Regions from separate parts of the Homo sapiens genome. Here all the other regions are linked to region 3. Evidence: fine-mapped expression QTL. A gene starts in region 3. Each other region holds a variant in brackets. All regions are shown on one strand. Distances are from middle to middle. Region 1 overlaps APBA2 (amyloid beta precursor protein binding family A member 2). Region 2 overlaps APBA2 (amyloid beta precursor protein binding family A member 2). Region 3 holds the start of APBA2 (amyloid beta precursor protein binding family A member 2). Region 4 overlaps APBA2 (amyloid beta precursor protein binding family A member 2). Region 5 overlaps APBA2 (amyloid beta precursor protein binding family A member 2). Region 6 overlaps APBA2 (amyloid beta precursor protein binding family A member 2).

Region 1 (5,381 bases), 81 kb after region 3:
TAATAATGTTGGGGATCTTTTCATATGATTATTTGCCATCTGTGTATCTTCACGGGTGAAATATCTGTTCATCACTTTTGCTCATTTTTTTTTTTTTTTTGAGACGAAGTCTTGCTCTTGTCTTCCAGGCTGTAGTGCAGTGGCACGAACTTGGCTCACTGCAACCTCCGCCTCCTAGATTCAAGTGATTCTCCTGCCTCAGCCTCCCGAGTAGCTGGGATTACAGGCGCCTGCCACCACGCCTGGCTAATTTTTGTATTTTTAGTAGAGATGGGGTTTCACCATGTTGGCCAGGCTGGTCTTGAACTCCTGACCTCAGGTGATCAGCCCACCTCGGCCTCCGAAAGTGCTGGGATTACAGGCATGAGCCACCGCACCTGGCCCACTTTTGCTCATTTTCTAATTAGATTTTTTTTTTAATTGTTGAGTTTTAAGGGCTGTTTATATATTCTAGATACAAGTCCTTTGTTAGGTACGTGATTTGCAAATAATTTCTCCCAGAGTATAATTTTTTTTTCTGTTATCTTAACTTGACCCTTGACAGAATGAAAGTTTTTAATTTTGAGGAGGTCAAAGTTTTATCAAATTTTTTCCTTTTATGGATATTGTGTTTGGTGTATGTCTAGGAACTCTTTGCCTAATCATTAAGGTCCCAAAGCTCTTTCCTTTGATTTTTTTTTTCTACATGTCTTATAGTTTTATATTTAAGTCCTTGATTCATTTTGCGTTAGTTTTTGTATAAGGTATGAAATTTATGTCAAATTTCTTTTTTCTTTTTTTGCCTATAGATGTGCAAATACTCCAGCGCCATTAATTGAAAAGGCTGTCCCTCCTTCATGGAATTACTTTTGCTCCTTGTGACAAATCAGTTGGGCATATTTGTAGGGATCATTTTTCCTGGGCTCTCTACTCCATTCCATTTGATCTCTGTGTCTCTCCCTTTGCCTATATCACACTGTCTTGATTACTATATCTCTGTAGGAAGCCTTAATATCAGGCAGGGTGATTTCCCCAATTTTATTCTCCTTTTTCAAAGTTATTTGGCTATTCTCAGGCTTTTCTCTTTCTAATAAATTTTAGAATAAGTTTGTTTGCATCTACAAAATACCTTACAAAGTTTGACAGGACTTTTGTTAAGCCTGTCAGTCAATTTAGGCAGAATCGACCTTTTAACTATGTTGAGCGTTCCAGTCCATGAGTATGTCTCTTCAGTATTTAGGTCTTTGATTTCCTTCCTTGTCATTTTGTAATTTTTATTTTATATAGATCCTGTACATATTTTGTTAGATATATTCATAAGTATCTTCTTGTTATCTTTAGAGCAACTTTAAATGGTGTTGCATTTAACAGTCTTGATTTCCACTTCTTTGTTATTAGTGTATAGACATGCAATCAGTTTTTGAATGTTGATCTTGTACCCTGAAACCTTACTGAACTATATGTTTTCCTCTCAGCACTGTCTGAGCTGCATCCTACCAACTTGGTATGTCGTGTTGTCATTTTAGTGCAGTTCTATATAGTTTAAAATTTCCCTTGAGATTTCCCCTTTGACCTATGGATTAGTTAGAAGTGTGTTGGTTAATTTCCAAGTATTTGGAGATTTTCCTGTAGTTTTTTTGTCATTGATTTCTAGTTGGAGTCCATTTTGGTCAACATATTCTGCATGATTTTAATTTTTTTGAATTTATTAAGGCTTTTTTTTGTGACCCAGGATATGGTCTATCTGAGTGTATGTTCCATGGACAATTGAAAAGAATGTGTATTCTGCAGTTTTTGGGTTGAATTTTCTATAAATGTCAATTTGATCTTTTTGTTGGATGGTGTTGCACACTTCTGTATCTTTGCTGATCTTCTGTCCAGTAGTTGTGTCAGTTGCTCAGAGTGGGTACTGACATCCCCAAATATTATTGTGAATTTGTCGATTTTTCTCTTGGCAAGATTTGTTTTTGCTGTATGTGTTTTGTGGTCTGGGGGGTACGCATTTAGAATTTCTGTATGTTCTTGGTAGGCTGGGCATTTTATTATTATGTAATATTATTCCTTGTCTTTATTTAGTTTCTTTACTCTGAAGTCTGCCTGGATATTAATATAGCCACTTTTGCTTTCTCATGATTAGTGTTGGCATGACATGTCTTTTCCCATCCTTTACTTTCAGTCTACCCATGTTGTTATGTTTGAAATGAGTTTCTTGTAGGTAGCTTGTAGGTTATTTTTTAAATCCATTCTGCCAATGTCTGTTATTTGATGTAGTTAGACCATTTATATTTAAAATGATTATTGACTTGCTAGGGTTTAAGTCTGCATTTTATGATTTTTTTCCTTCTCTTTCTCATTCCTCTGTTTCTTTTTCCTTGCCTTCCTATGGTGACAAACATTTTTTAGAGTCCCACATTTCCTTATTTATACTGTGTTTGAATGTACGGCTTTGGATAGTGTTCTTTATGATTGCTGTAAATATTATGTCAGCCTACTGGTGTCAGAGTTTTACCACTTTGGACCCTTTACCCTCACTACTTTTTAAATATAATTGTCTTAAGTATTTCCTCCGTATCCACTGAGTACCTTATCGTATGACATAATAACTTTTGCTTCAACTTAAAGTATGATTAAAGAACCTCATGAGGTGAAGGACAGTCTAGTCTTCTTCTGTTAGTCTCTTTTTCTGTTTGAAGACATTTCTTTAGCCCTTCTTTAAAGGTTGGTCTGCTAGTAATAAATTCTTTAGCTTCTCTTCTCCTGAGAATATCTTAATTTCTCCTTCATTTCTTTTTTTTGATAGCAAATTTATTGAGTCATAATTCACATACCATGTAACTCATACCTTTAAACTGTACAATTCAGTGGTTTTTAGTGTATTCACAGAGTTTTGAATCATAACCACAATCTAATGTAATAAAATTGTAAGTCTGGCTTTTTGCATGTGATAGAGGGGAGAAGGAAAAGCAGTCTATATCATCTTGCTCTGGAACTAGAAGTTGATAGTCTTTTCAAGTGTTTTATAAATTTCAGGTTCCTCTCTCCATCCCTTTATTTTTATTTATTTATTTATTTTGAGATGGAGTCTCGCTCTGTCACCTAGGCTGGAGTGCAGTGGCACGATCTTGGCCCACTGCAAGCTCCGCCTCCCGGGTTCACACCATTCTCCTGCCTCAGCCTCCCAAGTAGCTGGGACTACAGACACCTGCCACCA[C/T]GCCCGGCTAATTTTTTGTATTTTTAGTAGAGATGGGGTTTCACCGTGTTAGCCAGGATGGTCTCGATCTCCTAACCTCATGATCCACCCGCCTCGGCCTCCCAAAGTGCTAGGATTATAGGTGTGAGCCTCCGCGCCCGGCCCCTTTCTTTATTTTTAAAATGTATTTTAATTTTTAGTTCTTAATTGTGGCAAGAGATACATACAAATGTATCATCTTAAGCATTGTTTAGGTGTACAGGTCAGTGACGTTAAGGACATTGACATTGTTGTCCAGCTATCACCACCACTCATCTCCAGAATGATTTCATCTTCCCAAAATTTAACCTCTGCACTCATTAAGCAGTAATTGTCCATTCCCCTCTTTTCACACCCCCTGGCAACCACCATTCTACTTTCTGGCTGTGAATTTGACTCTTCCAGGTACCTCACGTAAGTGGAATCCTACAATATTTTTGTGCGTGACTGACTTCTTTCCCTTAGCATAGTGTTCTCGCAACGTTGTAGTAAGTGTCAGAATTCCCTTGCCTGTGAAGGCTGAATAATACTCCACCGTATGTGTAGACCACATTTTGTTTATCCATTCATCCATGATGGACACTTGGGTTGTTTCCACGTTTTGGGGACTGTGAATAATGTTGCTATGAGCATGAGTGTGCAAATAATCTCTTGGAGATAGACCCTGCTTTTCATTCTTTTGGGTGTATACTCAGAAGTGGGATTGCTGAATGATGTGGTAATTTATGTTTTTAATTTTGGGGGGAACTGCTATACTATCTGTCCCTGTCTTTTCCTTACAAACACGTGTGGAAGACTTTGAGGCATTTGACCTGTGGAACATCTCCCTTCTTATTTTGGATGGGTGCACTCCTGGTGAAGTTCAGCGTGTCCCTTTGTCCTCTCTCTCCTGCACATTGGCAGCTGGATCCAGTACCTTTGCTGGACTTGGTTCCGTCTCTTTCGCAGGATTAGAGGAAGTGCTCTATGTCTGTTCACCCATCTTTTTGTGAGCAGGCAGCTGTTGATGCTCAATGCCCCTGTTTTGGGTAAAATTGTGTCTCCCCAAAATTCATTTGTTGAAGTCTTAAGCTCCAGCATCTCAGAACCTGCCCTTATTTGGAGAAATGGTCTTTACAGAGCTTATCAAAGCAAAATGAGGTCATTAGGGCAGGCCCTAATCCAGCATGCCCAGCGTACTTCCAAGAAGAGGAAATGCGGAAGCAGACACGTGCAGAGGGAGGATGGGAAGATGTGGTGACTCCATATAAACATAAACACGGCTGTCTCTTGCCCTTCATTCTTGAACGCTTTGCTGGACAGGAAATCCTTGAGTGTCTTAAATAGGCTACTCTTTTTTTTTCTGGAGGTAATCATGGTTGTCAAAAAGTCTTAAGGGTCAGCCACAGTGGCTCACCCCTGTAATGCCAGCACTCTCGGAAGTCAAGGCAGGAGGATCATCGGAGCTCAGGAGTTAGAGATCAGTCTGCGCAACATAGGGAGACCCTGTCTACAAAAACCTTACCTTTCATTTCTTTTTCTTTCTTTCTTTCTTTCTTTCTTTCTTTCTTTCTTTCTTTCTTTCTTTCTTTTTTTTATTTTTTATTTTTGAGACAGTCTCTCTCTGCCGGCCAGGCTGGATCCAGTGGCACAATCTCGGCTCACTGCAACCTCCGTCTCGCGGGCTCAAGCGATTCTCCTGCCTCAGCCTCACAAGTAGCTGGGATTACATGCATGCACCACCAAGCCTGGCTAATTTTTGTGTTTTTAGTAGAGATGGGGTTTCACCTATAGGCCAGGCTGGTCTCGAACTCCTGACCTCAGGTAATCTGCCCACCTTGGCCTCCCAAAGTGCTGGGATTACAGGTGTGAGCCACTGCACCGGGCCTTAACCTTTCATTTCAAATAAAAAGGAGATAACCTGGAATTCTGTGTGGGCTCTCAGTGTAAAGATAGAAGGACACACAGAGTGTTTTGAAACATGCCCCTCCCTGATCAGCAGGTGTCCTGCTGTGTCACATGTGACTGTCAGTTCCCGACCCCTCGGCCGAGCAGAAAGGGCTTTGGCAAGGTGTCCGGAGTTGGAGGTGGCCTCTGGGAGGTTTGCTGCCCGAGGGTCCTGTTGCCGCCAGGACTGGTGAGGAGACTGAGGATTGAAGGGGCCAAAAGCTGACAAAATTCTGTGCGGGGGCTG
Region 2 (5,381 bases), 120 kb after region 3:
ACTGAAAACAATATAAAAACAACACAAGAGAATACAAAAATCAACTCAAAATAGATCAAAGACCTGAACATAAGAGCTGAGACCATAAAACTCAGAAGAAAACAGGTGCACAACTTCATGACATTGGATTTGGTAGTGACTTCTTGGATGTGACACCAAAGGCACAGGCAGCAACAGGAAAAGATAGGTAAGTTGGACTTCATCTAATATAAAAACTTCCTCAAAGGACACAGTCAGCAGTGAAAAGGCAACCCAAGGAATGGACGGAAATCTTTGTAATTCATACATCTGATAAAGGGTTAATAGCCAGAATGTGTGAAGAATTCTTAGAATTTAACATAAAAAGAAGCCACCTGATTAACAAACGAACAAAGGGCTTGAATAAACATTTCTCCACAGAAGATAGACACATGGCCAGTAAACACAGAAAAACATGCTCAGCATCACAAATCGTTAGAGAATTGCAAGTCGAAATCACAAGATACCACCTCATATCTATTAGGCCGGCTATTACAAAACAAAACAAAACAGAAAATAAGTGTCTGTGAGGATGTGGCAGAATTGGAACCCTTGTGCACTTTAGGTGGGAATGTAAATGGTGCAGCCCGTCGGAAAACAGTATGACAGTTCCTCAAAAAATTGAAAATAGAATTGCCGTGGAATCTAGGCGTGGTTTCACTTCTGGGCATATGCCCAAGGGAAGTAAAAGCAGGGGCTCAAGGAAATATCTGTACATTCATGTTCATGCAGCATGATTCACAATAGTCAAGGGGTGGAAGCAACCCAGGAGTCCATTGGCAGATGAATGGATCAACAAAATGTGGTGTATACATAGAATGGAATATTATTTTGCCTTGAAAAGGAAGGAAATTCTGACACATGCTATAACATGGATGAACCTTGAACCTTGAGGTCATTATGCTAAATGAAGGAAGCCAGATAGAATAGCACAGATCCTGTGTGGTTCCACTGACATGAGGTACTCAGAATAGTCAAATTCATGGAGACAGAAAGTAGAATGGTGGTTGCCAGGGGCTAGAAGGAGAGGGAAGGGGGTTAGTGTTTAATTAGGACAGAGGTTCAGTTTTACAAAGTGAAAAGAGTTCTGGAGATGGATGGTCATGATGGTAGCACAGCAGTGTGAATGTACTTAGTGTCACTAAGCTGTATTCTTAAAAAGGCTTCCAATGGTAAATTTATGTTACGTGTATTTTACCACAATTTTTTTTTCTTACAACGGAAAGGACTCAACACCATATCTAGTAAAACACACACTGAATGTTGTTATTGAAAGCATAGATGGCAGGATCACTTGAGTCCAGGAGTTCGAGACCAGCCTGGGCAACACTGGGAGACTCCCATCTCTACATAGAATTAAAATAACAGATTAGCTAGGTGTCCTAGCTACTCAGGAGGCTGAAGTGGGAGGGTCCTTTGAGCCTGGAAGTTCGAGGCTGCAGTGAGCTGTGATCATATCACTGCATTCCAGCCTAGGTAACAGAGCGAGATCCCATCTCAGAACAACAACAAAAAACAAATAAAAAAATAAAAGCACAGAGCCAGTCACAGGGACACTCCATACATATGAATTCTACCCACAGTCATTCGTGCCCCTGAGTGTCTGCCTTCCCACCATTCTCTGGGAGTTGGTTTCCATTCCCTCACCTCTCCTGTTCTCTCTGACAAAGGTAATTGAAACTATGTTTCTGTTCTTTCAGTATGGCCAGGTGGGAAGCTGTTCTCTAGTGTGAGTTAACCAGGACAGAGGGTGTGTATGTGCAGGGGAGAGAAGCCGGCAGGCTCTTCCTCCCAGATGCTGGACTATGGAATGTGATACTAACATGGGGATCCTCCCCAAGAGCCTTGGATCCCCTAGTGCACCAAAGTATCCTACTGAGAAGGCATCAGAAAATCTGACTCACAGAAGTTAGGGCAGTGTTTACAGTACCATGACAGCAGGCAGAGCTTGGGGTTCAAAGCAGAATCTGAGGAAAGACTCTAAAAAGACGAGCCCCTGCCCAAGATATGGTGCCTTTTCTAGTCTCATAGCACATTGCACCCCCTCCCCTCACTGTAACAATCCACACCCTCAGAACGCGCACCTGGAGTTGTTCATGGAGACTAAAGTGGGAGGAAGCTTTGGACAGTCACCTTTTTGAAGTCTGTTTTGAATTGAACAGTGTGCAAATGATAAGCCACTTATTTTAAAATAAGCTTCTTAATTCAAGTGTAATATAAACAGAAAAGTACAAAAATCCTAAGTGTTTATTACCATGAATATTTTCAAAGTGAACACATCCATGAAACTACCATCCAGACTAGGAAACAAAACATCACCACAACCCAAGAATCTCCCCTAGGGTCCTCTCCCAGCCATAACCCACCCCCGACCACTACCACCACCACCTAAAGGTAATCAGAATCCTAGCACCAAATGTTATTTTTGCAAATGTTTGAATTTTTTTTTAAATAAATGAATTTCTACAATATATACTGTTTTATGTCAGCTTATTTTATGCAACATTATGTTTGTGAGAGTCACTCACAGGTGGTGTGACAGTAGTTCATTGACTCACTGTTACAGAGCATTGTAAAAATACAAATAATTCATCCATTCTATGTTTGATGGACATTTGCATCTTTTCTAGTTTTGGGTCATGATTGCTGCTGGGAACACTGTTACACATTTGTTGTACACATGATTGCATTTCTATTGAGGGTACATCCAGGATTGGAATGGGTAGGTCACAGGGTCTGGGTATGTTTCTATTTTAGTGAACACTGCCAGTCCTTTTTCTGACGTGATTGTACCCAATTACACTCCCACCTGCAAATAGGAGTTTCATTTGCTCCACATCCTTGCTCATAACTGGTGGTGTTAGTCATTTTAATTTGATTTTTAGTGGATGCATGGTGGGATCCTCTGGTATGATTTTCAGTTCACTGAAGACTGTTGAATATCTCTTTCGAATACTTGTCTTGTGCTTTTC[G/A]AAACCTTCTCTTGAAGTTTTTGTGCAAGTTTTTGCTCATTTTTCTGTTGCATTTTCTTTCTTAGTGCTTTGTAGGAGTTCTTTTTTTGTTTTATGAGATGGAGTCTCGCTCTGTCGCCCAGGCTTGAGTGCAGTGGTGCGATCTCAGCTCACTGTAAGCTTCGCCTCGTGGGTTCACGCCCTTCTCCTGCCTCAGCCTCCCAAGTAGGTAGGACTACAGGCGCCCGCCACCAGCCCGGCTAATTTTTTGTATTTTTTAGTAGAGACGGGGTTTCACCGTGTTAGCCAGGATAGTCTCGATCTCCTGACCTCGTGATCCGCCCAACTCGGCCTCCCAAAGTGCTGGGATTACAGGTGCGAGCCACCACACCCGGCCGGGAGTTCTTTATATAGTTAGTACCTGAGACCTTTGCTAGATGTACATATTACAAATATTTTCTCACACTTTCTCACGTTCAGTGGTATCTTTTGATGAGAAGGCCCAGATTATCAATCTTTTCCTTTAAGGTTAATGCTTTTTGTGCCCTGTTTAGGAAATCTATGCATACCTAAGAACATGAAAACAACAGCATATTTATTTTTTCCAGCCATTCTTGTTTTCTAATATATGATTTTAGGGTTATAAATAGCCTATTAAGCCTGCTTTAGCTGTAATCCACTATTTTTAAAAATTGTAGTAAAAAAACACAGCATAAAATTTACCATCTTAACCATTTTTAAGTGTACAGTTCGGTAGTGTTAAGTAAATTCATAATGTTGTGAAGCAGATCTCTAGAACTTTTTCATCTTGCGAATCTGAACATCTATACCCATTAAACAGCAACTTCTCATTCTCCTTGCCCCAGCCTCTGGGAGCCACCATTCTACTTTCCGACTACTCTAGGTACCTCAAGTGGAATCCTACAGTTTCTGTCTTTTTGTGACTGGCTTATTTTGCTTAGTACAGTGTCCTCAAGGTTCATCTGTGCTGGGTTGTGTGATAAGATTTTCTCCCTTTTTAAGGCTGAATAATATTATGTGGTATGAATAGACCACATTTTGTTTATCCATCATCCATCGATAGACATTGGGTTGCTTTTATTCCTTGGCCATGATGAATAGTGCTGCTGTGAACATGGCTGGCTGTCCAGCACCATTTTTGGATACGTTGTATTTTTATTATTAATTAGTTCAAAATCTGTTCACTTTTTAAAATTTCTCCTTTGAAATGTGGGTTATTTTAAAGTAGTTGATTTCCAAATGCCTCCATATTTTCTGGTTATATTTTTGTTATTTATTTCTAGCTTGCTTACCCCGTAGTCAGGAACAGATTATTTACAATGTTAACATTTTGAAATTTGTTTACACTGGCTTTAGACTTGTCCACCATATGATTAATTTTGACAGACTATCCCATGTGCCCTTGTGTGTAGTTCCTCAGTTCAGTACTTTCGATATATTCATGAGGAAAAATGGGTAATTGTGGTGTTCAAATCTTATATTTCCATTCTTATTTTTACTTCTTTGTTATATCATTTACTGAAAGAAGTGTGTTAAATTATCCAGCTGCTCATAATGTCTGTGTCTAATAGACATAAATTTCATAATGTCTAATACTTTAGATTTGTCTTATTATAGTCCTGTCAATTCTCCCTTTATAAATTTTGAGTGCATTTAACTAGATACATATAAATTTAGAATTTATTCCTAGTAGGTTGCCCTTTTTAATTATGAATTCTTTCTTTTCCATAAGAATGCTGCTTTTCGTAAAATCTAGTTTGTCTAATTACCAATATAGGTATATAAACTTTCTTTTTTAACTTACTGCTTTAGAATAGTTTTAGATTCACAGAGATGTTGCGAAGATAGTAGAGAGTTCCCATACATCCTGTACCTACTTTTCCCTGTTGTTAACATCTCACATTAGTATGGTACATTTGTTACAATTAATGAACCAGTGCCAATGCATTATTATTAACTGAAGTCCATACTTCATTCACATTTTCTTAGTTTTTATCAAATGTCCTTTTGCTGTTCCAGGATTCTATTAGGAGACTGCTTTGAGTTCAGTTATTATGTCGCTTTAGGTTCTTTTAGACTGTGACAGTTCCTCTGACTTTCCTTGTTTCTGATGACCTTGACAATTTTGAAGAGTAGTGGTCAGGTATTCTATAGAATATCTTTAAATTTGAGTGTGCTTGGCATTTTTCTCATGGTTCAATAGGGGCTATGGGCTTTGGGGCAGAAGATCCCATCTGAAAAAGTGCCATTCTTATCCTATCAAATCAGGGCTACATAATTTATCACTGCTGATGTTACCCTCAATCGTCTGAGTGTTATGCACCATCTCCATGAGGGAACAGTATCTACACAAATTATTTGCAATTCTGCACAGGGAGATTGGTCTGTTCT
Region 3 (5,381 bases):
GTTGCATACTTAGAAAGGCCTTTCCCATTCCAAGATACTTTTTTTTTTTAAATTTAAAATTTTAAGTTCCCAGATACAAGTACAGAACGTGTAGGTTTGTTACATGGGTATATGTGTGCCATGGTGGTCTGCTGCACCTATCAACCTGTCATCTAGGTTTTAAGCCTCACATGCACTAACTGTTTGTCCTAATGATTCTTCAAAAATTCTCTGAATACTGGCAGTTGGCTCAAGCTCACCAGATTTAGGAGTCCTGAGTGAGGCTGGGGGCAGGCCTGTACCTTTATTTTTAAATTTATTTAATTTATTTCATTTTTTAAAATGATAGGGTCTTGTTCTGTCACCAAGGCTGGAGTGCAGTGGCACGATCACAACTCACTGCAGTCTTGAACTCCTGGGCTCAAGCGAGCCTCCTGCTTCAGCTTCCCAAAGTATTGGGATTATAGGTGGGAGCCACTGTTCTTGGCCCTAGGCCTATACCTTTCATCTTGTGGACTGAGGACTTCAGCCACTATCACTCCCGGGTGCTGCGATGGGGTTTAATTTCCAGTGACTGGCCCAGAGCCTGCTCATGGGAAGATCTCAAGGGAGGCTGTTGAAGGAACAGCATGCAACTTACCGGCCCACACACGTTCACACAGATGGGGGTGGGGGTTTGAGGAGGTGGGGGGTGTTGTGTGGATCAGCTTCAGGCACAGGTGTCTGGTTTCCTATGGGATGTGACCACATAACAGTAAGGCAAGAAGATGACTGCATTTATCTTCTCAGAATCACTTCTTCTTAATTGTTGCTTCCCACTATTGGCATTGGTGAAAGGCTGGGCCACAGGAGGCTGGATGAACTTTGTGTTAGCCAGGTAAGCAGAATGTCTATGCAGGTGGAAAGTAGACAGTGAAGGTGTGCTCATCTGAGTACGGAGGGGCATAGGTCAGGAACCTCGTTGGCCTGCCCTGGCCTTTGCCCCTTTGTTTGGCCCTGTGGCTACAAAGCTCCCCTACCAGGAGCAGCCCCCACTGGCGGCTCTGGCCCTGGAAACCTGTGAATGTTTGGTGGGGGCAGGGTGTGGAGAGGCCAAGTCCACAGTGTATCTAACCCTAGTCCATCTCAGGATTCGGCTTCCCCCAGCCCCTTCTCCTTAGGGTCTCAGCTCGGGCCCTCAGGGCAGCAGGAAGATGCGCTGTCCTCACTCCCAAGTCCCCCTGCCCTTCTGTGCCTTCTGACCTGGGCAGAACTTCCCATGCCACAGCTTCGCCTAATCCAGCCACAGGAGAAAAGAAAACGAGGGCAAATCACCACGATTTGGGGGGAGGGAGGCCCCTGAGCCCCCGCTCTGCCCAGACAAGGCATCCTGTGCATCTCCCATGGCTCATCACATCTGCCTGGGACTCAGTGAAAGGGCCAGAGGGCCAAAGGTGACACCGGAGTCTCCAGCACGACCTTCGAGGGCCTCCAGGGCATTTCTCGCGCTGTAGGGGCGGAAGACTGGCTCCCCTGGGGATGCATGTGAGTGTCTAGGAGTGTACGCTCCCCAGGGCCCCGCGGAGGTCAGGGTTCTCTCCATTTAGGACAGCAAGGAGAGAAAGCCCTGGAGTGAGGCCCTGGGGCTGGGGGCTAAAGCAGCACAGAGTATCAGAAACGGGGTGCTGGGATGGTTACCGGGGACCGCCAGGGAAGACTTGGGAGTCCAGCATGCGCCTAGGGGAGCTGCGGTGGGGAGGCAGCAGGGGGCCTCCTCTGCCGGATGGGGCCTTCGGAGGCCGCGATCCCCGAGAGTTCTTCGCTCGAGGGTTCTTCGCTCTAGGGTCCCCCATTACAGCTGCGCGGGGCCGAGCAAGCAGGGCGCGGCGGCCGGGGCAAGGTGCGGAGCCTCGCGTTCACCGGCTCTACCTGCGGAGCCTCGCGTTCACTGGCTCTACCTGCGGGACCAGACCCCTGCAGCTCCCCAGCCAGCACGGCCGGGGCACGCCCGGGAATCTGTGTGCTCCCCAGGGCCCGGGGCGTTCGGGGCGCCGCGCCTTCCAGCGCCTGGGTCCCAGCCCCGATCCCGGAGACCGGCCCGGGGGGACCCGGGGTCCCGAGTGCACCCTCCTGCCCTGCAGACTGTCCCAGCGCCGGGGCCAGGGGGCGCAGGACCTCGCGCACGCCCGGCACGGACGCATCTTTGTCTTCCCTCTCTTCACGGCGCGCGATCTAGCCGGGAATCGTTTTCCGGCCCCAGTGTGCCCGGCGCGGGTGAGGCGGAAGCGGCCGGGGCGGGGGCGCAGGCCCGGCAGCCGCAGGCCGGTGCGGGATGCGCCCCGCAGCCGCGCCGCGTGCGCCCGGCAGAGGCGGCCCTGCGTGCCGTACGCTGCGTCCGGGGCGCGCCCGCCGCTATTCGGGAAGCTATTCAGCTTCCCGGGCTCATTAGCAGTCGCGGTGTGCGGCTCGGCGCGGGCTCACAAAGAGCTCGGCCTCGCGGACTGAGCCGGCGGCAGCGGGGCGGGGACGGCGGCGTACCCGGGCAGCCCAGCGCCCTGGCCAGGTAAGCTGGGGAACCTGGGCTGCCTGACTTGCCGGCGGCGGCAGCCTGGGGCCGCCCGGGGCGCCGCGAGGACCCGGACGCGTGGGGGGCGGCGCGGAGGTTGCGGCCCGAGCGCTCCAGAGCGCTGCCCTCCCGACTCAGCGTGGCTGCGGGGCGGCCGCCGCTGGGATATGGGGGTACAGCCCGGCGGCCCCACTCCTCTCTGACCGGCCGCTTCCCCCTCCCACGACGGGTGGGCGGGCGGGGCGGGGACCAGGCGGCGGCTCTCGCATCCCGCGCGGGGGGCACCGCGGCAAGGGGCCACCCGGCGCGGACAAGAGGCGCTGTGTGGCGGGGCTGTCCGCTCGACTCCTGCCGGGCTGGCCGGGCTGCTTGGCACCGGCATCAAGTCCCCGTGCCGGGCGGCAACTACTGAGTTTGGGGTCGCCTCTGGGTTCGCTGCCCCCAGAGAACCCAAGCCCAGATCTTCGCCCCCTTCCCTTTCCCTTTATAATAAGGCCCAGAGGGGAAAACTTATCAATTCAAAACCCCACACCCCGTTGCTCCTGGGCTGCAGGTGCCCGGTTGGGGGCACGGCGCGGACCTGCCCCTCGGCCTGGCCCCTTCCCCATGGCAGGCACTGCCTGGCAAGGCTGCTGGCGGGAGATCTGGCTGCAGATGGTGAAGGAGAACATCGAGGCCCCCGGTCCCCAAGCAGGGCGCCATGGGCCGGGCAGCGGGCCTCGGTGTGCCCAGGCGGGGAGGGGGCGAACTTCCTTTCTCCGACGCCTGCCGAGGACCGCCGTGGAGAGCAGAGCCTTAGAGGGGCCTGCTAGTCTTAACTTCGTATTTACTGGCAGAAGGAAGGCTTAATTTTTCAGATCTATTCAGATACGACCTGGCAGGCACCAGACATAAATCTGTGGTTGAGTGCAGTCAGCTCCTAAATGGGCATGTGGAGGGTGAGGCACCCCGAACTCGGCATCTTGCGTCTGGCACTGTTTTTGGGCTAAACTGCCTCTGGCCTCTTCAACCTCCTGTGCCTCTTTCTGTTTTTGTTTTTGTTTTATTTTTCTGTTTTCCTTCCTCTTTGAGAAAGGACAGTGATTTTAGAAATAATGACCCGAGAGCTTTGCAGGTTGAAGTGGGACGAGTTTTCCTAAGGTGCAGGTTGGCAGGTGCCAGGAGCCTGCAGGTGGCTTTTTCTCAGGCCTCTGGGTCAGGGTCCCTCCAATGAGGTGAGGCAGGGGTTTCTCCTGTGTGTCGCCACTACGCAGGGGACAGGATCTGGGTTTCCCAGTCCAGGGCGTCCAGGATGCCCTGCCCTCTGTGCTGATTCCTGGGTGACCGTGGGGGCTGCTTCCCCCTGCAGCCTGGGCTGGAGAGGGTCTCCTGAGCTTAGGATCTGCCAGGCAGGAGGGCCAGGGTGACACGGACCTGGAACGCTGGGGCTCCAGGCAATGTCCAGGGCGTGAGTGGGTAAAGCTGGAGCTTGTGGCTGTGTGCCGGCAGCCTTCCCTCGGTGGGCTCTAGCAGCACTGTCAGGGGGGCCCTTGGAGTGGGCTCCATGGCTGGGCTGGGACTGGGTGATGGCATTAGCGATGGGGCACCGAGTCTTCCCTCTTATTTATTAGGAAGTGTGGTCTGTGCCCCTCCCTACTGCCGGTCTCCTGGGCTCCTGGGATGGGAGGAGCTGCAGGCTGAGTCCCACGGGGTGTGAGTGTGTGTGAGCAGGAGAGTTGGGTGGGCGCTGGAAGGAGGTGAAACTGGTGACCGTCAGCTCCTCATTCTCTTCCACCTTGCATGTTTTCTCTGACACCCTAGACTCAAGTTGTGGCCTGCTAGTTAACTTGTTTACAAAACCTTTTTAAGTAGTTCTAACCTCTTTTTTTCAACAAAATGTTAGTTTTACAGGCATAATTGGTGGGGATGGATTGTGAAATGGAGGTGCATAAATACCTAGTTTGCCAACTGAGCTAAGAAATACTGGATAAAAATAAGAGATAATTGTAAAAGACACTGATCACACCCCTGGAAGCTGAGAGGGGTGATAAGACACCTTGATTTTTCCTAGACAAAACTGAGGAAGTCAGAGGAAAAACAGTTGATGGTGAGGTTGGCATCAGGCTGGGCTTTGTTTGGATTGGGCGGCGGTGGCTGTGGTGAGGGCTGTTGGAGTGGGGAGAGTGGGGGTTGAGCCTGGCTTCAGAGACCCCCTCGAGGCCTCAGCTCCTCTCCGGCGCTCCTGGCTGTCCTCTGCCACGCATACCTGCCCCGGTGACTCAACAGGTGTGGGCCTCAGGTGACACCATGGTCCGAAGTCGTGGAGAAACCTTTACTGTCCAGGGGAGGAGAGGACTGGCGGTCGGTGGGGATCGAGACCCAGCACACATCACTGGGTGGCTCGAATGTCTTCGGCAGAGATCACATGCCCTGCCTTGCAGCCTGGTCCTTAGAGAATGGGGAGAGTGGAGAGAGCTCTGGGCCTGGGTGGCGGGCGGTCCTGGCTGTATCACTCACAGGCTGCGTGCCCTCCCCATGCAGTCTCAGTTCCTCACCCTTGCCAGGTGGCTGTGAGGACTGGGAACGTGGAGGCACAGGTAGGATGTAAGGTAGCCACTGACCACCAGGCAGGCCTCCCCGATGTAGGTCAAGTTTGAGATGGTTGCTCACCAGGAGGCAGCCTGTGTGCCCGGTGGGGGCTGGGGGTGAAGTTTGAGAGGGTTGCTCACCAGGAGGCAGCCTGTGTGCCCAGCGGGGGCTGGGGGTGCTCTTTGTTCCCTTGGGTGGTGGTTGGCCCGAGTGCCCACAGGGAGGCTTCTCTGGCTCCTTCGTTTCCCAGAGTTCCTCCCCAACCCCCTGCCGCCCACCGCCTGGGTTG
Region 4 (5,381 bases), 66 kb after region 3:
TACCACACCCGGCCTCTTGTTGTTGTTAGTAAACTTTTAATTCTAGAACAGCTTTAAAGTTATAAAAAAGTTGCAAAGACTGCAGAGAATTCCCATGCTTGCTTCCTCCAGTCTTCTCTCTCGTTAACATCTTACATCACACGGTGCATTTGGCATAACTGAGGAACCAACGTGGGTCCATTGCTATGAACTAAACTCTGCAGTTTATTCCAATTTCCTTAGTTTTTGCTTAATGTTTTTTTTCTGTCCCAGGAGCCTGTCCAGGCCACTACGTTACCTATAGTCCTTGCGTCTCCTTAGCCTCCTCTGGTCTGTGACAGTTTTTCAGCTTTCCTTGTTTTTAATGACCTTGATAGTTTTCAAGAGTACAGGTCTTTGTGAATATCCTTCGATTTGGGTTTATCTGCTGTTCTTCTCATGGTTAGACTGGAGTTATGGGTTTGGGGGAGGAAAACCACAGAAGCGAAGCACCATTTTCAACATACATCAATGTTGCATGATATCAATATGACTCATAACTATCGATGTTGACCCCGATCAGCTGGCTGAGGTAGCATGTGCCAGTTGCTCACTGTAAGATTACCCCACCTTCAGCGGGGTGCGGTGGCTCATGCCTGTAATCCCAGCACTTTGGGAGGCCGAGTGGGTGGATCATGAGGTCAGGAGATCGAGACCATCTTGGCTAACATGGTGAAACCCCGTCTCTATTAAAAATACAAAAAATTAGCCAGGCGTGGTGGTGGGCACCTGTAGTCCCAGCTACTTGGGAGACTGAGGCAGGAGAATGGCGTGAACCCAGGAGGCAGAGCTTGCAGTGAGCTGAGATCACGCCACTGCACTCCACCCTAGGCGACAGAGTGAGATTCTGTCTCAAAAAAAAAAAAAGAAAGCAAAAAAAGATTACCCCACCTTCTTTCCATAGTCCTCCCTGGAAGGAGGTCGATGTGCAGAGCCCATGCTTAAGGAATGTGGAGTTACACTCCACTCCTTCATGGGGGGTGGGGATATCTGTATAAATTATTTGGAATATTTCTGTATGGGGGACTTATCTATTCTCCCCCATTTATTTATTCAAACATTTACATCAATATGGATTTGTGGATATATAATTTATACCTTGCTTTATAATCCAGTGCTGTGTTATTTATTTTATTGCTCAAACTGTCCCAGCTTTGACTATATGAAGCTCTTTCAGGTGGCATCCCATGTCCCTTAGAGAGATCCCTACCTTTTTGTTTTTTTGAGTACAGTCAGTTGGCCATATCCGTGAGTTCTGCATCTGTGGATTCAACCAACCTTAGATGGGAAATATCTGGGAGAAAAATAGATGGTTGCATCTCTACTGAACAGACTTTTTGTCTTGTCATCATTCCTTAAACAATACAGTATAACAACGATTTATATAGCATTTACATTGTACTAGGTATTATAAATAATCTAGAAAGGATTTAAAATATATTGAAGAATGTGCATAGGTTATATGCAGATTCTACACCATTTTATAGAAGGGACTTGAGCATTGAGGATTATGGTATCTACAGGGGGGCCTAGATAACCAATCCCTTACAGATACCCAAAGAAAACTGTACCTCTTTCTGGCACAAGATACTCAGGCTCATCTTGAATTTTTCCTACCCAGTCCTGGACTCAGCTATTTCTGCAAGGATCCCTGCCTTATTTTATTGAAGAATGGTATCTAGAAACCAAGGTCTGGAGACAGGGTTCTTCTTGTCACCGAGGTACATTGCTTCCAGGCCCTCTCAGCAGACAGAGCTAGGAAATATGCATGTATGCTAATCTGTGTATACATATGTATCTCCCATAGTTTTTTTTTATTTTTTTATTTTTTGAGACAAAGCCTTGCTCTGTTGCCAGGCTGGAGTGCAGTGGCACGATCTCCACTCACTGCAACCTCCGCCTCCCAAATTCAAGCAACTTTCCCGCCTCAGCCTCCCTAGTAGCTGGGACTACAGGCGTGTGCCACCACACCCAGCTAATTTTTGTACTTTTAGTAGACAGAGTTTCACCATGTTGGCCAGGATGGTCTTGATCTCTTGACCTCATGATCCATCCGCCTTGGCCTCCCAAAGTG[C/T]TGGGATTACAGGCGTGAGCCCACTGCACTCAGCCTTTTTTTTTTTTTTTTTTTTTTTTTTAAGACAGAGTCTCCCTCTGTTGCTCAAGCTGGAGTGAATGGCACAATCTTGTCTCACTGTAATCTCCACCTCATGGGTTCAAGGGATTCTCTTGCCTCAGCCTCCTGAGTAGCTGGGATTATAGGCATGCACCACCACGCCTGGCTAATTTTTGTGTCCCATAGCTTTTTTTTGAATGCACGACCCCATCTGGCGGCGAAGCCCTGGACCTAGCCTTCTGATCACTCATGGGAACCATGACCACGTGTCACATAGTAGAAAGGAAAACTTGGACAACTTACTGTGTAGACAGGAGCAGCAACAACAAAAAAGACTTGGAAGGCTTAAAGAATATTTTCCAAGTATACACAAATACAGAGAATAATAAGAGGAATGACTTTGAGAGCCTGAGGCAGGAGGATTGCTTGAGCCCAGGAGTTCAAGAACAGTCTGGGTAGCATAGAGTGACCTTGTCTCTACAAAAAAATTAAAAAAAAAAGCCAGGTGTGGTGACGCGCACCAGTGGTCCCACCTCCGTGGGAGGCAGAGGCAAGAGGATCACTTGAGCCTGGGAAGTTGAGGCTGCAGTGAGCCATGATTATACCACTGCATTCCATCCTGGCTAACAGACCAAGACTCTGTTTAAGAAAAAAGGAGTATCTGGGGTACCTGCTATCCAGTTTAAGACATGTACAAATATGATTCAGCCTTCCATGAGCATGCCTCCCCAGCCACCCCTGTGAAACCCAGTAAATTGAATTTACTGTTTGTTTTTTGGAGGCATGTTTTATTTTTACACTGCATGTATGCCTAAATGATATATCCCATTGTTATGATATTTTCAAACTTTGTAGAAATGATACCTTACTGTGTTCCTACAACTTGAATTTTCATTAACTGAGACATTTTACATGTATTTATCTTCTTAGCAATCCTGAGAAAAGCAAGAGTCACTATCTCCATTGTATAGATAGAGAAACTGATAATGTAGAGCAATGATGTGATTTTTGCTAATTTCAAGCAGCTAATGGAGATCGACTCACATTTGTACCTTCAGAGCCCTAGTCCATGCTCTTTGTATGACATAAATGTCAAGATTCATCAGGAAAAGGAAGAACAGGCGGGTCTTGTTGGTTACTCTGTGACCCTGTTGCTTCCCTGGGACCTGGAAGTCCTGGTGTCTCCCTTAGCCTGGAATCCCAGTCTCCATCTGGGTTTTGCAGGCTCCAGGAGTTTTGATGAAATGAGGACCCATATGGCTGGTTGAGACTCCCACCCCCTCATCACTCCCTACCAGCGTTTGTGCAGAATCCTCCTCTCCTCCCGAGTTGGAAATAATGTATAGTTGGCTCAAAAGTCAGCCCCTCCTTATTTTAGCACCAGATGCTGCCTCTCAGCTTCACGCTGCCCTCCAGCAGCATTGCCTGTGGTCCATGGGATCTTGGCCTTCACACTCAGCATTGAAACAGCTGCCTTCCGCTCCCATCATAGGAAAGAGAACAGAAGTCTCTTGCTCCCACTCCCCCCGCCCCACCCCCTGCTGCTGGCCTATTTCTGTGCTTTGTTTTGCTGTAGAACTTCTGGAAAGAGTTGTCTGCAGTGGCTTTCTCCATTTCCTCCCTTCCCGTTCTCTCTTATACCCGCTCCAGTCGGACTTTTGCCCCTTCCACAGACACCTCTCCTGACACTTTTGACCCCATCACTTAGAGATCAAGATCTGTAAGACTCCAAGTCTCCAGATCCAGTGGTCAGCTCTCGGTCCCTTCCCATGTGACTGACCAGCAGTGTTTGCCACAGTCGTCCCCTCTAGGAAACACCTTCTTCCCTTGGCTTGTGGGGCACTCTGTGCTTGGGATTTTCTTCCTGCTTCACTGGACTTTGCTCAGTCCCCTTACTGACCCGTGAGTGTCAGAGTGTCCCTGCGGTCAGTCCATGCCCCTCTTCTCCGCTCGGTCCACACTCCCACCATGGTTGACCTCATTCCGACTTGTGGCACAAGGAGCTCACATTTATCTTTTAGCTCTGATTTCTCTTCTGACCTCCAGACTGTACACCCTGTTGCTCACCCAGCGCTTTCCCTTAGAGTTCTAATTGACGTCCCCACACAACAGGCACCAAGCTGTCCCTGGCCATCTCAACCCCAATCTCCACATCTCAGTAAATGGCAGCTCCATGCTTCCGGACACCTAGACCATAGACTTGGAGCCAACCTTGACTCCTGTCTCTCTTAAACCCCACATGGAATCTGTTCCGTAAGCTGCCCATGGTCACACCGGCACCGCTGCCGTGCGATGAGAGCCTGTCATCTCCTTGCTAGATTGCTGTGCCAGTTTCCTGATGGTTCCTGTTTCCACACTGACTGCATACCTTCCCACCCAAGTCTGTGTCTGCTCAGCAGCTGGTTTATTGCATACAAACTTAAATGAGAATGCTCCTCCGACCAGAGCTCTCCGTTCCCTGGCCATCCCATTAAGAGTAAATGCTGGAAGCCCCTCCTCAACTGACTTTATTTCTTAAAACTCTATCCTGCAAAATCCTGCCTGGCTAATAACTTTATCACCTTCTTCGTGTTGGTTCCAACGTTCCCTTCTGCAGGTGGCTTCTGCGGACTTTGGTACTGGCCCACATCCCTGAGCTGGTAACCCCCCACCATGCACAGGCACCCCCACATTAATTCTGTAGCTTATTTGTTTATTGTTGTCTGTGCCACTCCAGACAGGAAGCCTGTGGGGGTTGGGGGCTTGGTCTGCCTTCTTCAGCCCTGGGCTCACAGTCCTGACATCTTCTTGAAGACGGCGCTCACGGTCAGGCTGCAGCAAATTCACAGTTGACATCTAGGAGTGAGGGCCTCCTGCCATGCTGCACTCTGGCCTCTCACCTGCCTCCTGCTAGTCCTGGGCACACCTGGAGGACAATCAGGGAATTTCTTTCCCCATCTGCTTTGGCATCCTCCAAACCTGGGAACCTTTCTAACACCTGACTGCTTGGTGACCATGTGTGTGCTCTGTGGATTTCTGTCCAGGAGGGTCCCTCACTCTGGCCCTCAGGGCCATGTGCATGTGGACACCGACTGGTAGGGTTGGTTTCCTATGCAGAGAGCAGGGCCAGAGGCATAGCCGGCCCACCCCCAGCCCCATTGCTCACGGTTCACCCAGTCCCCTGGCCTTTCCGACGCTGTGCGCATCTGTATTTGTTGCAGTGAACAGAGCCTAGAATTATAGGACTTTGTCAGACAGTTTGATTTTCAAC
Region 5 (5,381 bases), 45 kb after region 3:
CCCTTGGCCTGCAGCAATTTGTCAGAATTACCCAAACTACTGTGGTATGGCCCTGGAGGCTCTGTTCCAGGTCAGTGGATCTTTGGATTTGGCTGTGTCTCTAGATTTCAGGGGGGCGGGTTGCAAACTCAATTCACTGATGAGTCCAAAGAAGGTCATTGATTTTCAGTTTGTGCACCATTTTCTAGTCATGAGGATGGGAGTGATGACTTCCAAGTTCTTTACGTGTTGGAGCGGAAACTCCAATCCTTCCCCTGCTTTGATTTTCCTGTTACCCTAACCGGGAATCATGTTTGTTATTTGATGGTTTACTCAGTTGTCATCTGTCTTCCTAATTAGGACATAAGCTCCAGGGAACTGGAGTGTCAGTGTTCCCTTGCGTCCTTGCACCCACAAGACAGCCTGGCACATTCTGAATGAATACACCGAAAGGGATAAATAACGAGGCCAAGCCACCTGGCTATGGGTGGCTGCTAATCCGTAGGATTTCTCGTGCCTTGTGGTTTCAGTGAATTTGCGACACACATGAGTGATGCTGCCAATGGGAGGCTCCCAGATGTCCTCAACAAATAGAGGAGTGACCACTCAGATCCAAGGGTGTAGCACTTCCCGCCTATCACTGGGAGCTGATGGGCTGTCTTTAGCATGGCACTTTGTATGGTGCTGGCGCCCAGGCTTCCCTGGGGCAACAGCGTTGGCCCAGGCGACACACAAGAAGAAGGGGGTTTTTCTGTGGTCACTTCCGCGTTGCTAGTTGTTTTGCCCTCTTACTGTGGCTAAACCTTCTGTCCATACCTGTCCCCCATTCTCAGTATTTGGCTTTTCGGATTGCAGTAGTGGGACTTGGGTGCACATTGCAATAAACCAATTTGCCCCCATTATCCATGTCTTGTTGATGGTCCCACTGCCAGCATCAGTTCTTATGAACAGATTTCTAAACCATCACCATCTGTTCTGCTCTTAATTTCAAGTGTAAAAAGTATTACTTTCCTAATTCCGTCAAGGGGAGGGAGAATATGTATTCCTAAAGACCACAGTTCTTGTATGAGGAAGTGTAGATCTGCCACCCACCTACTAAAGGAAAGGTTGCTTCTGCCCATCCTCAAAGCTGTTGAGCAGTTATTTACCTAGAGGGTAAAACTGGCCCATTCGCATCTCTATAAAAACAGGTAGGAAAAGGTGGAAGGAGCTGAGTTGGGGAGGTGGAAGGGGGGCAAAAGCTATGTCTCCCGTCCCTCCCTGACAGTGCAGCCCCCCAACCCTCCAGCCCCCGCCAGTATAGGTGGGAATGGGCTGGCAGGGCTGCATTGTGGTGGTCCCTGCTGCTGCTAGGGCTGTTTCCAGAAGAAGGCCCAGTTTCAGGCTTGACTTCCCCTCAGAAGTCATAAGGACCATAAGGTCCATCTGGGTGGGCGCTGAGCTCTCCACGATGGGAGCAGGATAGACATGAGCATCTTCACCCTCGTGGTCCCTCTGAGCCTGCCCTGGGGGTGAGCTCTTTTTCTGCTCAAATGAACATTCCAGGCAGGCCCTGGAGCTTTCTGTCGTTCTAAGGCAATAGAAGGTTCTTTGGTTACTTTCAGTCCCAGGAACATTGTTGGTCAGTCATGAAAAGGAGTAATTATAGACTCTTTGGAGCTTCTCCCACCCGGCTGGAGCCTGACCTGTCTTGGAGCCGGCTGGGGAGGGAGGGCTGTGTGTCTCCTTCTTTCTTTCTTTGCCTCTGTTTTTGCTGGCCAGGGAGTGTTCCGAGGGATGGAGTGTCTGGGGAGAGGGCATTCTCTCCACAAGTGGGCTGGGTGGCACTTCTGGGGTCCAGCAGATGTTTCACTTGGACTTCCTGTCTCCAGTGACCCTCGGGTAGGTTTCTTAGAGATGACCCTGCTGGGAACTTGCAGCTCTTCCCTGCGACCTGTGGGAGGCCTTGCTGGGCTGATGCCCTTGACTGCTCTCCCTATCCTCCACCATGCCCCTCGGGAGTGCTCCTGGGCTGTTCCTTCAAGGCGGCCCCAGGCTGGCCCCACACTGGTGGGAGCAGCAGGCAGCTCCTCCTTGGGCAGCTCCTCCTCTTCCCCTGTGAGGCAGCTCTGGTCATGGCCTCCTGCCTCTGGATTCTCAGGAAACTCGGGTGCCGCGTCCGCAGACATTGGGGACTCGGTACAGCTATCCTAGGGGTCTGCTAGAAGCCCTGTTTGGGAATCATGGTGAAGCCACCTCCCCAGCCCCCTCCATGAGGCACAGCCCTTCACGGAAAGTCCCTGCTCCTCTTCTGGTACCCCGTAGGCCAGAAACCATGCTGGGGTGGGGAGCTGGGAGCATCTGTTGATGTGGGATGCAGGCGTGCTTGTCACCTCTCCTGGCCCTCAGGGCAGCAGGACAGCTTACATGAACATCTCATCCCGCTGCTGGTGGCCTCTGGTGAGAGACTACTCCAGTCGGTCCCCCTGTAGCTCCTGGATCTTAGCGGGGGCCTGGGAATGGGAGGCCACAAGGAGGTTCCAGAGCTAACTAAAGCCGCTGAGACTCAGAGGGAGTCTCACGCCACTGCCTCCTGTGCCCCCATCCCCTAGCAAAGTGGGACTGATGAGGGATGACCTTGCGTCCTTCTCCCCTGTTCACTGGGACCTGGTGCTGTTGCCACCGTGGGCCCAAACATCCACTGCCCTTTTAGCAAGGCAGCGCTGCTCCATAGGGTCCAGCCGGGGAAGCATCTGGCTTTGCACAGGTGGAAGATCATGACTATTTCCAGAGTCTGTTGCCAGGCTCCATGTAGTTCAGGAGTTGTTTCTCCCTCTGAGAGTCCAAAGTGGTTGTTTTCC[G/A]GAGTTTGGCAGTACCTAAGGGTTAATTGGGATGTTATTGTCTGCATTTGGCTTAGAGATAGGAAAGTTTTATGTTTATTCAAATTATCAGTAATTTAAAATTACAATTTTAGTCTTAATTGTACGTATTTGGAGATCCCATTTAAGTCTTTGGAAATAATTGCAGAGTAATATTTTGGGAAGTTATATTACAATGCACAGACGTTCAAGTGGAGAAAGGTCCCTGCGTGTGAGCCTTGGCCTGGCAGAGGGGCATCCAGGACAGGATCTACAGCACACAGCCCTCCCAACTGGGTCTGGGCATGGCTGCAGCTGAGTCTAGCCCTCCTTTCTGTGCTGCTGCATCCCAGGGGATACGGCCACACAGGCCACAGTTGCCTAGACCGACCTGGTGTCAGGATCACTGTCTCTGCTTTGGTAAGATGTCCTTGGGAGGGGAAGGGAGCCAGCCAATGAGATGAGGGGTAGGAGGGTGACAGGGTGGAGCAGACCCTCATGCTGGCAGAAGAGAGGTTCACATTCACCAGGGAGCAGGTTTTTCTGAACCCTGGAGAGCTGAGGGGGGCACCTGGAGCACCCCTGCAGTCCACAGCATGGGGTGCTGGCTTCTGTACTGTAGTGCAGTGCCATGAGGTACCCATCCCTTGCAGTGGGGTAGGGTTTAAAACCCAGAAGGCAGCCCTCCCTGGAGCACAGCCCCATGGTGTTTAGAGACCCTCTCCTCTGAGCACATGCAGGATGTGACAATGCAGGTGGGCCTAGTGCTGCAGTCTCAGAGACACCCATGGGCTTCTGCCATGCTTTTTATCCACCAGGGCAGTAAAAGCAACGTCCACAGTGGCTTAGCCTCCTGCAAAGCCTGTGGCAGGACAGCCAGGGTTCCCTGACAGTGGAGATGGTGGACGGCCCCATAGGGGGTTGGTCCCATCTCGCCAGCAGAAGTGACCTGTGTGGCCTTAGTGGTCAGTGCTGCCTATTGTGATAGTGGATTGTTTAAAGCCAGGTCCCATCGTGGCTCCTGAGGGAATGAAAATGAGGGGTTCTTTGCTGTGATCTGATGCTTGTGTTCCACCAAATCCATATTTTGGAATTCTTATCCCCAAAGTGATGGGACCTTTGGGAGGGAGACATTGGAATTCACATTCCCAAGGAGATGGGGCCTTATGGAGGTGTCTTAATCTGTATTCTGCTGCTGAAACAGAATACCACAGATTGGGTAATTTATAATGAACAGAACATTATTTGGCTCAGAGTTCTAGGGGCTGGGAAGTCCAAGGTTGAGGGTTGCATCTGCTGAGGGCCTTCTTGCTGCGTCCTAACATGGTGGAAGGCATCATATAGTGAGCGAGAGAGGGAAGGGGGCCAAACTCATTGTTTTATTAGGAACCTGCTCCTCAGTCACTAACCCACTCTCGCGATAATGGCATTAATACATTCATGAGGGTAGAGCTTTCAGGACCTAATCACCTCTTAAAGGTCTCACTTCTCAACATTGTTGCATCGGGGATTAGGTTTCCAACACATGAACTTTGGGGGGGCACATTCCAACTATAGCAGTGGGTGATCAGGTCCTGATGGTGAAGCCCTCATAATGGGATCAATGCCGTTTTAAAAGAGGCTGCAGAGAGAGCCTCCCGCCCTCCACCATGTGAGGACAGAGTGAGAAGCTGCCGTCTCTGAGCCATCACGCAGGTACTCACCAGGCACGGAATCTGCTGGCTCTCTGGTCTTGGACTTCCCAGCCTCCTGAACTGAGACAAGCCACTTTCTGTCATGTATAATCTACCCAGTTTATGGTATTTTGTGAGAGTACCCTGAATGGAATAAGACTCCCTTCAAACAAATGTCCTGCTCTTTGAAAGAGAGTGTGGGGCTCACAGTCTGCTAGTAAAGACAGTTGTAGGAGCAATGGCAAGCCCACACTGGCTCGGATTTTCAGACCTTATCATTGAGTTAGGAGCGAAGTCCTCGACCTGAGGTTTTATTGGTCCAAAGTCAGGGCCTGCTGGAGCCCGACAGGTTGCGTGCTTGGCCTGTGGAGCAGTTTTCTCCAGAGCACCTCTATCCCCTCTGCCTTGTGCCAGGCCCAGCAGGGACTGAGGGTAGAATAATGACAGGCACAGCTCCTCCCCTCAAAGAGTCCACTATCTGGGGTTTGATGCTGGAGCGCAAGGAGGGGCTGCCCACATGGGCGGAGCAGAGGGCCTGGGGAAGTTCCAGGAAGAAGTGACTGTGTGCCGAGGCTGCAGGAGTAGAGGCAGCCCAGGAGAAAGGGGGGCATGGGCTGGAGGTGGGGGTGGTTCCAGGCAGAGAGAGCAGCTTGCACACGGGAAAACAAGGCATGGAGTGGGCAGCTCCTTCCGCCTGGTCTCTAAACCTGTGAAGAGGGGGCTGGGGAGAAGAGACGGGGGTGGAGGAGAGCAGGACTCACAGGCCAGCCAGCCCTCCACAGCCTTGGGAACAGAGTGAAGAGCTTGGACTGTGTCCTATGTCCTGGGGCCGGTGCCACTGCAGGCTTTGGAGCCAGGAGGGACTCAGTGGAGCTTGCTGTGTATGATTGTG
Region 6 (5,381 bases), 89 kb after region 3:
GACATCTGCAGACTGAGGCACATGTGTTTATTTTGAGAGGAAGTTTGTAGCAATCCAGAATCATGCAAACTCCATTGAGGTCCGGACTCCTGTGACCCTGTGTATTCCTCTGTTTGGATAGCAGATTAGGAATAACCAGTGATATCACAATAGGTAAAGACAAAGAAACAGAACTTGGATTTCTTCAATTCTGTCATTCTATGTGAACACTAGAGGTTTTTATTGGTGTGTAAAATTTGAAGAGTAAGAGCACAGATGATGAGATTGGATATTTTTGTTTGATTGGTGCAACTTGTAGTTGACACATGAAATATTTTACTGAATATGAGCTGTACCATTAGGACTGAAATTCATCTTTTAAAATTGTCCATGGTTTTTAAAATTACAGATCCAGTTAAGGAAATAGTGATTATTACTGGTTATTATGTGATAATTACTGAAAACACTGTTGTCACATAGAGGATGAAGGTGTTAAAAATTAGCCACATTATGTATGCCACATAGCAGGGGACAGGCTTCATCCAATGAAAAGATGATGTGGGAAACTTTGGCGAAGGCACTGATAGTATTTTTACACTTAAACAAGTATTTTAAAATGTTTAAAAAAAATTGTATATGTATGACCGAAAGAAAGGTAGGGATAAGTATGGAGGAATGGCTATAAATGTTATATATTCTGACAAAATAGAAATAATGAATAAAAATAATAGTTGGAGTAGGAAGAGCAAAAGAGGAACAGAGAATCAGCTCATTGATTGCCCTGCAGGTAGGAAAGTGGTAACATTGTTTGGTATACAAGAATGACCACTGAAACAAAAATATAGACCTTAAATACCCAAAGAAATGCAAAAACAAAACAAAACAACTTTTAAAGAAGCAAACAAACCATATAGTGAAATACACACGGTCAATATAACACTAAAGAATAGAACTGAGACCAAACCTAGCAGCCGCATCAGTAAATTAGAGTGGATTTAACCCATTTATTAAAAGGCAAGACTGATTTTCAGATTGGTTCACATAGTGGCACCCAACTCTATGCTGTATAAAGAAGTCATATCCAAAACACAGTGATCCAGGAAGGCTGAAAATGACAGGAGGGTGTATAGCAATGAAGAGAGAAAAAGAGCTTGGGAGTTTTAATCCTGACTGCAGCCAAGCTAGTATCAGGCCAAAAGCATTAATGGAAACAAAGAGGGCCGCTGTCAATGCTAAAGGCTGCAATTTGCAGAGAAGATACACTAGGTGTGGTTATGTCTGCTTCACATAACATCACCAGAACCTCTACGATGCGGAAACCACAGGGGCGGTGGGGAGACATGAGGGACACGCAGTTCCAGGACATTGTGACTGCCTTGCTCAGCCTGAGACATGTGAAGGGGACCAAAACATACGCCTCCAAATGTACCAGACTTTGTGCTGTGATAATAGGGAATACAACTTTGTTTCGAGACTACTTGGAACACTTAGGAAAGTTGACATATATTAGCTTACAAAGACAACCTCAATGAGTTCCGTAACAGAAATAATACAAACAACATTCTGTGCTCACAATGCAATAAAACTAAAAATTAATCATAAGATTAAAAACCAAAAAGGCCCTTCAATTTGAAGAGTTACAAGATTAAACTCTATTAAATAAGTTTTTAGGTGAAAGGAAATACACAAACCAAGTGCATAATTTTTGAATTTGACGATAATTAAAATATATCACTCTGTGGAATACACATAAAGCTGTGGTTATAACCTCAGAAATGAAACCAAACGAATTAATGGATTTATCATCTAACTAAAAATGATAGATAAAAATAGCCAAATAAACTTAGAGTAGAATGACAAAAAATAAGAGTAAGATTGGAAATTCATGAGTTTTAGGAATGAGAAAAAAATGAAACTGATAAATACACAAAATACTACATCCTAGAAAAAGAATCAAGTGGACAAACCTCTGTCTAAGCTAATCATGAAGGGGAGAGAGAGAGACCCCAAACAACACAGAATAAGAAATGACATTAACAGAACAGAGCATATTTAAAAAAATCATTAAAAGCTTACTTTGTATAGTGCTTTGCAAGTAAGTGTGAAGACCTGGATAGAAAGGGAACTTCTTTAGGAAAATATAATTTATTCAGATTGACCCCAGTAGACACAGAAAGTTTTAAAAAAAAATTCCTACTGGAAAAAAATTCAAATCTATATTTTCACAGGAGAATTCTATCAAATCTTCAAAGAACAGATATCTCAATGCTACTTAAATTATTCTAGAACATAGAAAAAGAAACCTTAAGATTATTCAATGAGAAAACCACACACCAATCTCACTTAGGAATATTGATGTAAAATGCCTAAGTAAAACAGTATTAGAGAGAACCCTTTAAAAATGGTTTTGAGACAACTGGATAGCCATTTGGAAAAAGATAAAATTTTGTCGATATCTTTCATCATCTACAAGCATACATTTCAAATGTCTCTAAATAGGTAGTTACCAGAAAAACTACCACAAGAAAACATGGGTAAATTTTAAAATAACCTGTGGGTAGGGAAAATTATGATTCAAAATCCAAAAGCAATGTAAAAAAGATTGAGAAATTTGGTTGCATTAGGAAAAAAACAAAACAAAACTGCTTTCGCATGATGGGGGAGGGACACCATAAGCAAAGTGAAAAAGCCAGGTAATAAACCAGTAGAAAATATTTGCATCTTATATCACAAAGCTAATTCCTTCAAAATATAGATTATAACAAGATACCATTTCTCATGGGCCATATTGGCAGAGAGGAAAAAACTCAAAACAAAACAATA[C/G]AAGTTTGATGGCGCCCTCTATTGGCGAGGCTGTGGAGCAGCCATTCAGATTGCTCCACCCCTGGAGGAAACAGGATGCCTTGGGACTTGGTGCACCTGCATAGACCCTGACTCAGCCATGCCTCCTTCCTGAATTTACCTGGAAGACAATACTCCAAATCCAAACATGCTCATGGCATATGGAGATCTTAAATTAATAGGTCCTCTTTTATGTCTTTCAATAAAGTAACAGATATGTTTCTATAGAGGTCTTCCATTTTTACATTAAATTGATTCCCAGGTATGAAATTTTGGCTACTGTCCCAGTGGCAGCCCTCTGGAAATGACCTTTGTTGAGTTTGTGTTTTGACCTGGTATCCAGCAACCTTGCTTAACAGTCTGAAGAGCAGCTTGGGGCTTTTCTCTATGGACAGTATGTCTCCTGCATGTAATGACAGTTGGCTTTCATTCATCCATTGCAATCTTCATCCTTTAATTTCTTTTTGTTTTCTTACTTCTGTGGTTGGGAGTGACAGAACAGTGTTAAGCAGAAGCAGTTATACTGCAAATTCTTGTCTTATTCCTTCTTGTAGGGCCATCTCTAATGGTCCACCATGAGGTGTGGAGTTTGCTGTGGACTTGTGGTAGATCCTCACTTTGTTAAGGAAGTCTCCTTCTGGTCCTAATTTGCTAGGAGTTTTTTCTCCCTTTAATTGTGAATGCATGTTGAACTTTATGAAATGGTTTTTGGGCATCAATTGAGATGATCTGTTAATGTGATGAATTATGTGATTGCGACAATAGCTTTTCTAATATTACACCAAGTTGACATGCCTGGGATAAACCTGTATTTCATCATGATATGTCTCTTAAAAATTGCTGGGTTCACTTGGCTAATACTTTATTTAGGATGTTTTTTCACCTGTTTATAAATGAGTTTGGCCTATAATTTACCTTTCTTATTCTGCCTTTCATTGGTTTTAGTGTGGAGATTATATTAGACCCATAACATTCAGCATCTCATCCTTTTCTCTTTTGGAGAGCAATTAATATAAGACTGAGGTGATATGTTCCTCAATGGTATTGTTAAAACTTACCTGTGACACCTTCTGGTTCCAGTGCATTACTAGTGGCCAGATTTCAAGTGACTAATTAAATTTCCTTAACATTTAAAGTCTATTCACAATGAGGAAATAAACCTTACCTCATCAGTTGGCTTCCTTCAACACTACCATTTTTCTTCTTTCTTGTGAGTATGTGAGCCTTAGTTCAGGCTGCTATAACAAAAATATCATAGATTAGTTTAGAGAACACACATTCATTCCTCACAGTTCTGAAGGCTGGGAAGTCTAACGTCAAGGGGCTGGTGATTCCTGGTGAGGGCCCTCTGCTTGGTTTGCAGATGGCTGCCTTCTTCCTGTGCTCTCACATCGGGGAGAGAGAGAGCATCTCTCTCGTGACTTTTCTTCTCATTCCCATTCATGAGGGCCTAATTTCTTCCCAAAGGCCCCACATTATAATAGCATCACATTAAGGATTAGGCTTCAACCTCTGAATTTGGGAGGAGCACATTCAGCCCTTAGCAGAACCCCACCCCCAAGATTTTCCTAAGTGAATGAATAGTCATCCCCCAGCCTTGTTCCTGGCCTCTAACAGCATTTTAGAAGGAGGTTTCTCATGACTGGGGTTGGCTGAGATGGGAATTTCCTGATTCCATTGGCTGTGATTCAGCCCCATGCCATCCTGCCAGTAAGATGAACACATGAGTCATGCTCAGCTGCTAGGGTGCCTGGTGCTGCTTCCAGTTCCTCTGGGTGACCTCTGTCCAGCACATAAACCTCCTGAAGCATTCCGAATTTGCGGAAAGTGAGCCACCCTCCCAATGTGTACATGTCTGGGCCTACCTTCCTGCTCTCGTATGTGACAGGCACACAGCCTTTCCAGAAGGTACCTCATTGCCTAGTACAGAAATGCTGAGGTTCTCACAGGAGTGAGAACCCTACTGACTGGCTGTTGTGTCTCTCCCATACAGTCGGGTGTGGAGCAGTTGGACCCACATACCTATCTGCGCCCATCCTCAGTTGAAAGGTAGTGAACAGCTTGGGCTGTGGACTCAGGCAGGCCTCGGTTCAAATCCCAGCTCTGCCACTCAGGGGCTGTGTGTGCAGATAGGCTGCATCTATTGTCCAAAGCCAAACATGGGGAAAACCAAACAATCTCTCAAAGGGGTGTGGTGAGGGCTTAGGCAAAAGACTGGTGTACCGTGGCTCGGATGGATTAGTTTCCATTCTCCCTCTCTCTGTTTCCAGCTTTCCTCTCACTACAAGATGAGGGCCCTGTCCCTCTTGGGCGTTTGCCAAAGGAAGGTCTGGACACCCAGCAGCTCATTCATGTCGCTTCCCAGTTTGCTGTTACCATGTTGCAGTGCAGAAGCCATAAGCCGCATGATCCGTGAGCCTGGCCCTGCAACTTGGCTCCTCCACACAGCAGCGTTTGCCTTCATTGTCACAGATGACTATGAGAAGATGCCCTTGGTCATCTTTGGTCTGGGCTCTGGAGTTCTGTAGAGCTTTGAGCCGCCAGAGCTAAGGGGGTGAGGC

What was found. PIP is the estimated chance that this variant, and not a neighbour inherited with it, causes the effect.
Region 1: its variant is fine-mapped to the expression of APBA2 in whole blood (TOPMed, PIP above 0.99).
Region 2: its variant is fine-mapped to the expression of APBA2 in whole blood (TOPMed, PIP above 0.99).
Region 4: its variant is fine-mapped to the expression of APBA2 in whole blood (TOPMed, PIP 0.97).
Region 5: its variant is fine-mapped to the expression of APBA2 in whole blood (TOPMed, PIP above 0.99).
Region 6: its variant is fine-mapped to the expression of APBA2 in whole blood (TOPMed, PIP 0.98).

What each region holds. Positions count from the first base shown.
Region 1 is chr15:28,964,405-28,969,785 of GRCh38, forward strand. All of the region lies in intron 2 of APBA2 (amyloid beta precursor protein binding family A member 2), which reads left to right. Among named protein-coding and RNA genes, the nearest start is that of APBA2, 81 kb to the left of the region's middle. The variant C/T (reference allele first, on the strand shown) is at 3,191.
Region 2 is chr15:29,007,192-29,012,572 of GRCh38, forward strand. The region is part of intron 3 of APBA2 (amyloid beta precursor protein binding family A member 2); the gene reads left to right. Among named protein-coding and RNA genes, the nearest start is that of APBA2, 120 kb to the left of the region's middle. The variant G/A (reference allele first, on the strand shown) is at 2,991.
Region 3 is chr15:28,883,758-28,889,138 of GRCh38, forward strand. APBA2 (amyloid beta precursor protein binding family A member 2) reads left to right here and starts at 2,217. Exons shown (of 15, transcript NM_001353788.2): 1 at 2,217-2,521.
Region 4 is chr15:28,949,755-28,955,135 of GRCh38, forward strand. The region is part of intron 2 of APBA2 (amyloid beta precursor protein binding family A member 2); the gene reads left to right. Among named protein-coding and RNA genes, the nearest start is that of APBA2, 66 kb to the left of the region's middle. RefSeq lists enhancers at 4,630-5,131, 5,132-5,381. The variant C/T (reference allele first, on the strand shown) is at 2,093.
Region 5 is chr15:28,928,877-28,934,257 of GRCh38, forward strand. The region is part of intron 2 of APBA2 (amyloid beta precursor protein binding family A member 2); the gene reads left to right. Among named protein-coding and RNA genes, the nearest start is that of APBA2, 46 kb to the left of the region's middle. The variant G/A (reference allele first, on the strand shown) is at 2,820.
Region 6 is chr15:28,973,046-28,978,426 of GRCh38, forward strand. All of the region lies in intron 2 of APBA2 (amyloid beta precursor protein binding family A member 2), which reads left to right. Among named protein-coding and RNA genes, the nearest start is that of APBA2, 90 kb to the left of the region's middle. The variant C/G (reference allele first, on the strand shown) is at 2,803.